2 separate regions of the Homo sapiens genome follow, and region 2 is linked to region 1. The links come from fine-mapping of genetic effects on gene expression. Tissue or cell type: non-classical monocytes. Region 1 holds a variant in brackets; the other region holds the start of a gene. All regions are shown on one strand. Distances are from middle to middle.

Region 1 (2,757 bases):
CACCTGGTGTCACTGGTGAATTCCATCAAACATTTAAATAAAGTAAATACTAATTCTTCATAAACTCTTCCAAGACATAGAAAATGAGAAAAAACAGGTTAGCAGTTCCTAAAAATGTTAAGTATAAAATGATCATGTGATCACTTGTGAACACGTAATCATGTTAAGTATAAAATGATCAGAGACTTTTTTTGCTATATAAGGTGAACTGTATTAGTCCATTTTCACACTGCTAATAAAGAATACCCGAGACTGGGCAATCTACAAAACAAAGAGGTTTCTTGGACTTAACAGTTCCACATGGCTGGGGAGGCCTCACAATCATGGTGGAAGTCAAGGAGGAGCAAACCATATCTTATGTGGATGGCAGCAGGCAAAGAGAGAGCTTGTGCAGAAAAACTCCCATTTTTTATTTGTTTTGTTTTTGTTTTGTTTTGAGACAGACTCTTGCTCTATTGCCCAGGCTAGAGTGTAGTGGCAGCATCTCGGCTCACTGCAACCTCCACCTCCCAGGTTCAAGCGATTCTTTTGCCTCAGCCTCCCTAGTAGCTGGGACTACAGGTACATGCCACCATATCCAGCTAATTTTTGCATTTTTAGTAGAGATGGGGTTTCACCATATTGGCCAGGCTGGTCTCGAACTCCTGACCTTGTGATCCACCCACCTCGGCCTCCCAAAGTGCTGGGATTACAGGTGTGAGCCACCGTGCCCAGGCAAAACTCCCGTTTTTAAGATTATCAGATCTTGTGAGACTCATTTACTATCATGAGAACAGCCCAGGAAAGACCCACCCTTATAATTCAATCACCTCCCACTGGGTTCCTCTCACGACACATGGGAACTGTGGGAATTACAATTCAAGATGAGATTTGGGTGGGGACACAGCCAAACCATATCATGAACATTCACAGGTTCTGAGGATTCGGACTTGGGCATCTTTGGGGATCCCTTATTCAACGTGCCATAGCTAGCGCTAAGCACTATTAGAGTTAACATAGAATGCTGCTGGGTGCGGTGGCTCATGCCTATAATTTCAGCACTTTGGGAGGCCGAGGCAGGAGGATAGCTTGAGGCCAGGAGTTTGAGACCAGCCTGGACAACATAGCAAGATCCTATCTCTAAAACTATTTTTTTAAGTATAGACAAGGTTTCACTATGTGGCCCCGGCAGATCTTTAACTCCTGGGTTCAAGTGACCCTCCCACCTTGACCTCCTAAAGTGCTGAGATTACAGGTGTGAGCCACCACGCACAGCCAAAATTTTTT[A/T]AAAAATTAGCCAGGCATGGTAGCGCATGCCTGTAGTCCCAGCTACTCAGGAGGCTGAGGTGAAAGAATCATTTGAGCCCAGGAGTTCGAGGTTGCAGTGAGCTATGATTGCACCACTGCACTCCAGCCTAAGCAACATTGCAAGACCCTGTCTCAAAAAAAATAAAATAATACATTAAAATAAAATAAAGTAGAATGGTATGATAGAGAGGGCCTCAAATACGACTTCAGGTTGAGTGGTCAGGAAAGGCCTCTATGAGGCTGCATCTAAACTGAACTCCAAATGACAGGAAATACCTGGGTTGGGGTAGGGGGGCAGGGAGGAGAACATTCCAGGCAGAAGAAATAGCTAGTGAAAAACTCTAGGAGGCCGGGCGCGGTGGCTCACGCCTGTAATCCCAGCACTTTGGGAGGCTAAGGTGGGCAGATCACGAGGTCAGGAGATCAAGACCATCCTGGCTAACACGGTGAAACCCCGTCTCTACTAAAAATACAAAAAAAATTAGCCGGGTGTGGTGGCGGGCGCCTGTAGTCCCAGCTACTGGGGAGGCTGAGGCAAGAGAATGGCGTGAGCCCGGGAGGCAGAGCTTGCAGTGAGCCGAGATGGTGCCACTGCACTCCAGCCTGAGTGACAGAGCAAGATTCTGTCGCAGAAAAAGAAAAAAAAAAAGAAAAACTCGAGGGCAGAAATGAGCTTGGCATGCAGGAGAACTCAATGCTGTTGAGATTAGAAGAAAAGTACAGAAAAGTCAATGAGTTTTAAATTCACATCTGCCTTTCAGAACAAGAAAACTTAAAGCTCTGGCCGGGCGCGGTGGCTCACACCTGTAATCCCAGCACTTTGTGGGCCGAGATGGGCGGATCACTTGAGGTCAGGAGTTCGAGACCAGCCTGGCCAACATGGTGAAACCCTGTCTCTACTAATAATTCAAAAATCAGCCGGGCATGGTGGCACGTGCCTGTAATTCCAGCTACTCTGAAGGCTGCAGCAGGAGAATGACTTGAACTCGGGAGGCGAGGGTTGCAGTGAGCCGAGATCGGGCCATTGCACTTCCAGCCTGGGTGACAGAGTGACATCCTGTCTCAAAAAAAAAAAAAAGCTGGGTGTGGTGGCTGTAATCCCAGCACTTTGGGGGCCGAGATGGGCAGATCACTTGAGGTCAGGAATTTAAGACCAGCCTGACCAACATGGTGAAACCTCATTTTACTAATAACACACAAATCAGCCAGACGTGGTGGCACATACCTGTAATTCCAGCTACTCTGGAGGCCGAGGCAGGAGAACCCAGGAGGCGGAGGTTGCAGTGAGCCAAGCAAGATCAGGCCACTGCACTCCAGCCTGGGCAACAGAGTGAGACTCTGTCTCAAAAAAAAAAAAAACCCAAACGGGCCAGGCCCGGTGGCTCACGCCTGTAATCCCAGCACTTTGGGAGGCCGAGGCAGGTGGATCACGAGGTCAGGAGTTCAAGACCAGCCTGGCCAACGTGGTGA
Region 2 (2,607 bases), 130 kb after region 1:
AGCTGCCAAGGGTTTATATTTAATTAATCCTTATTTAAATGTGAATCCTCAAAACCTCCACAAAACAAGCCTCTAGCTGCACCTCGGGGCCCTATAAAAACCAAAAAGCGTGTGCAGGTCCAATGCGAGGATATGAAAAAAATAACTCCTGCCTCAAAGAAACACGGGGTTTCCATCCTGGTCCAGCTCGTGGAAGAGCGTTTCAAGCCAACTTTGGATAAAGCAGCTCTTACGGCCGTCGCTTCTCCCACTGAGGTCTGTCCTGCTGGTGCACTTACTTCCAAATGCCCCTTCCGGGAAAATGAAACCTTCCACCACCTTCGACGATCAACTGCAGAGTAAACTTGCGGAAAGTGAAGGAAAAAGCAGACACCTGATTCCTTGCAAGTCCCAGAACAAAGACGAAAGGACCACGAGTCCCGTTGTTACCATTTCTACATCCCAATCACTTGGGGTGCAATGCCCCAAGATCTAGGAAAAGGAATCCACCCTTTTGCCCCCACAAAATGTGTTCAGAGCCAAGGGTGAGCGGACCCGCACTCTCCCACACCGCATTCGGGCAGCCTGTCTGTCCCTCCCATAAAGGGCTCTGGTCAAGATCCAAGTCAAGCCGGACCCACTCCCACAAGCAGAGCTGTGAGGTCCTGGGGGTTAGGGCGGGGGTCCTCAGAGCTTCCAGGGCCAGTCCCCAGGCTGCAGACCCACTCACCTGCAGACAGGACAGCCTCCTACGACCACGATAGAGTTGGCAGGATAGCGGGTGACGGTCCGGCTGTGGATGTTGTAGACCCTGGGATGGTGGGTGGGTATCCCTGTGGGCGGGAAAGCAGGTCATTAGGGTGCAGGGAGGAGAAATCGGACCGCCACGGGGACTACTCATCCTGTCCCCTCAACCTCCACCCCGCTAAAAAAGCCCCCGGTCTTTTCCACCCTCGGGACGGCCACCGCGGGCCTGATTCGGCGCTAATCTGCCAACAGCGAGCGCCTCGTGACACAAAGTTCATCTGGGGCAGGGATCCGGCCCCGCCGGGTTACGACGGGCCCGAGGACTAGAGCCCCGGGGGGGAGGCTGGCCCTCGGCGGCGCCGGGTCCCGAAGCCAGCCCGGGGACCTCCAGCTCCAGGAAGGACCCCCGGGCGGGCCCCACCCGCCTCCGGACCCACGTCCCCCGACCGGGCTTGCCACCTCGGAAGCCGCCGGCGGGGAAAGTTGGTTACGGGCCCACCTGTGACGAGGTAGGGGTAGGGCGGCGGCGGGGGCGCGGCGGGGATGGCGCCGTAGCCGTGCGGGCCGCACGCGTAGTCGCCCTGGCCGGCCTCCAGGTTGTAGGCGGGCGGCCGCTCCTGCAGCAGCGGCTTGTGGTCCATGGCGGCCCGGCCGCGCCCGCCGCTCCGGCCCGGCTCGGCTCGGTCGGCCCCGGCGGGGGACGCGGCGGCGGCGGCGGGGACGCGGCGGACCGGGTGGCTCGGGCCCCTCTGAGGCAGACGCGGGGCGGGGCGGGGCGGGCGCGAGCCGCGGGCTTCCCCCGCCCTCCCGGGCCCAGTCACAAGACCGGGGTCACGTGGGCGGCGGGAGGCGGGGCTCGGGGGCGGGGCCGGCGGGGCGTCTTAAAGGGGCCGCGCCCTCCCGAAGCCGCCCCGCCGGCGGCGCCTCTGCACTCCGCCCCGCCCCGCCGCCGCTGCTCTCTAGACCTCCCGTGGCGGGGAGACCCCCCCCCCCGCCCATCCCCCACGACGACCCAGAGACGCCCCATAGGGTCATGACCTTTAGGGCTCGCGGATGCACCCCCACCTCCCCCTACGCCCCGATCTCCCAGGCCGGCCGAGGTCCCCCTACCGGTGGAGGAGGGGGAGGGCGGGGCCTGAGAGGGGGCGGGGCCGGGTGGGTCCCAGGCCGCCCCAACGCCAGCCCTCTGCCCCTATGATCGCCAGCGCTTCCAGCAATACAAAGGGCACACCCGGGTGTGCACCTCAGCTGCGGCCTGCGCGGTGCTCAGCTGCGGCGCATTCCCTCCGTTTGCCTTTTTTTGGACAATTAGGTGATTGACGGGGGTAGTAGCCAGTGCTTACAAATAACTCCCCCGTTTGGGGACAAAACTATAAATACTGGGCACCTGCCGCGTCTCCTCAGTTTCCCTAATCTTCAGGCAGCCCTGCCAGGTGTTTTGCTTACCCCTGGAGGACAACACGGGATCGGGCTCAGAAGGGGGAGGGATTTGGCTGTGGCAGGTGCGGGTCAGAGCCCGTATCTAAACCTGGGTGTTTTCTGGCCTCGGGGACTGCGTCAGGCGCCCTCGTTGAAACATTTCCTCATACAAGGCTTCACGGGTTGGCCAGGACAACTTTAAAACGAACGATTGGAACGTTCAGGATTGCTTGCGTCCTTAGCGCCTCTGCACCTTTTCAGGGGCACCTGTATCCGTTACTGTATTCTGTCTCCAGTTTTCTCACCTGCATTTTGATATCACCTGCACTGTAGCTCTGGGACGACTACAGCTCTTCTCGAACCGCGCCTTTTTAATTTTTAAAAAAAAAATTTGTAGGGGGTGCTGGGGGGGCTCTCTTGCTCTGTCACCCAGGCTGCAGTAGAGTGACACAGTCATTGCTC

Alleles and levels. Alleles are on the strand shown, and positions count from the first base shown. SD is a standard deviation of normalised expression in the study named.
With allele T in place of A in region 1, the expression in non-classical monocytes of the gene that starts at base 1,477 in region 2 is lower (large effect, 1.2 SD a copy in Schmiedel 2018).

What was found. PIP is the estimated chance that this variant, and not a neighbour inherited with it, causes the effect.
Region 2: BRI3 starts here. The variant in region 1 is fine-mapped to the expression of BRI3 in non-classical monocytes (Schmiedel 2018, PIP 0.93).

The regions. Positions count from the first base shown.
Region 1 is chr7:98,406,755-98,409,511 of GRCh38, reverse strand. No RefSeq gene overlaps it. Among named protein-coding and RNA genes, the nearest start is that of BAIAP2L1, 7.0 kb to the right of the region's middle. The variant A/T (reference allele first, on the strand shown) is at 1,267.
Region 2 is chr7:98,280,556-98,283,162 of GRCh38, reverse strand. It overlaps BRI3 (brain protein I3), which reads right to left and starts at 1,477. Exons shown (of 3, transcript NM_015379.5): 1 at 1,226-1,477; 2 at 710-812. The coding sequence starts at 1,367. RefSeq lists silencers at 986-1,325, 1,456-1,965 and an enhancer at 1,662-2,607.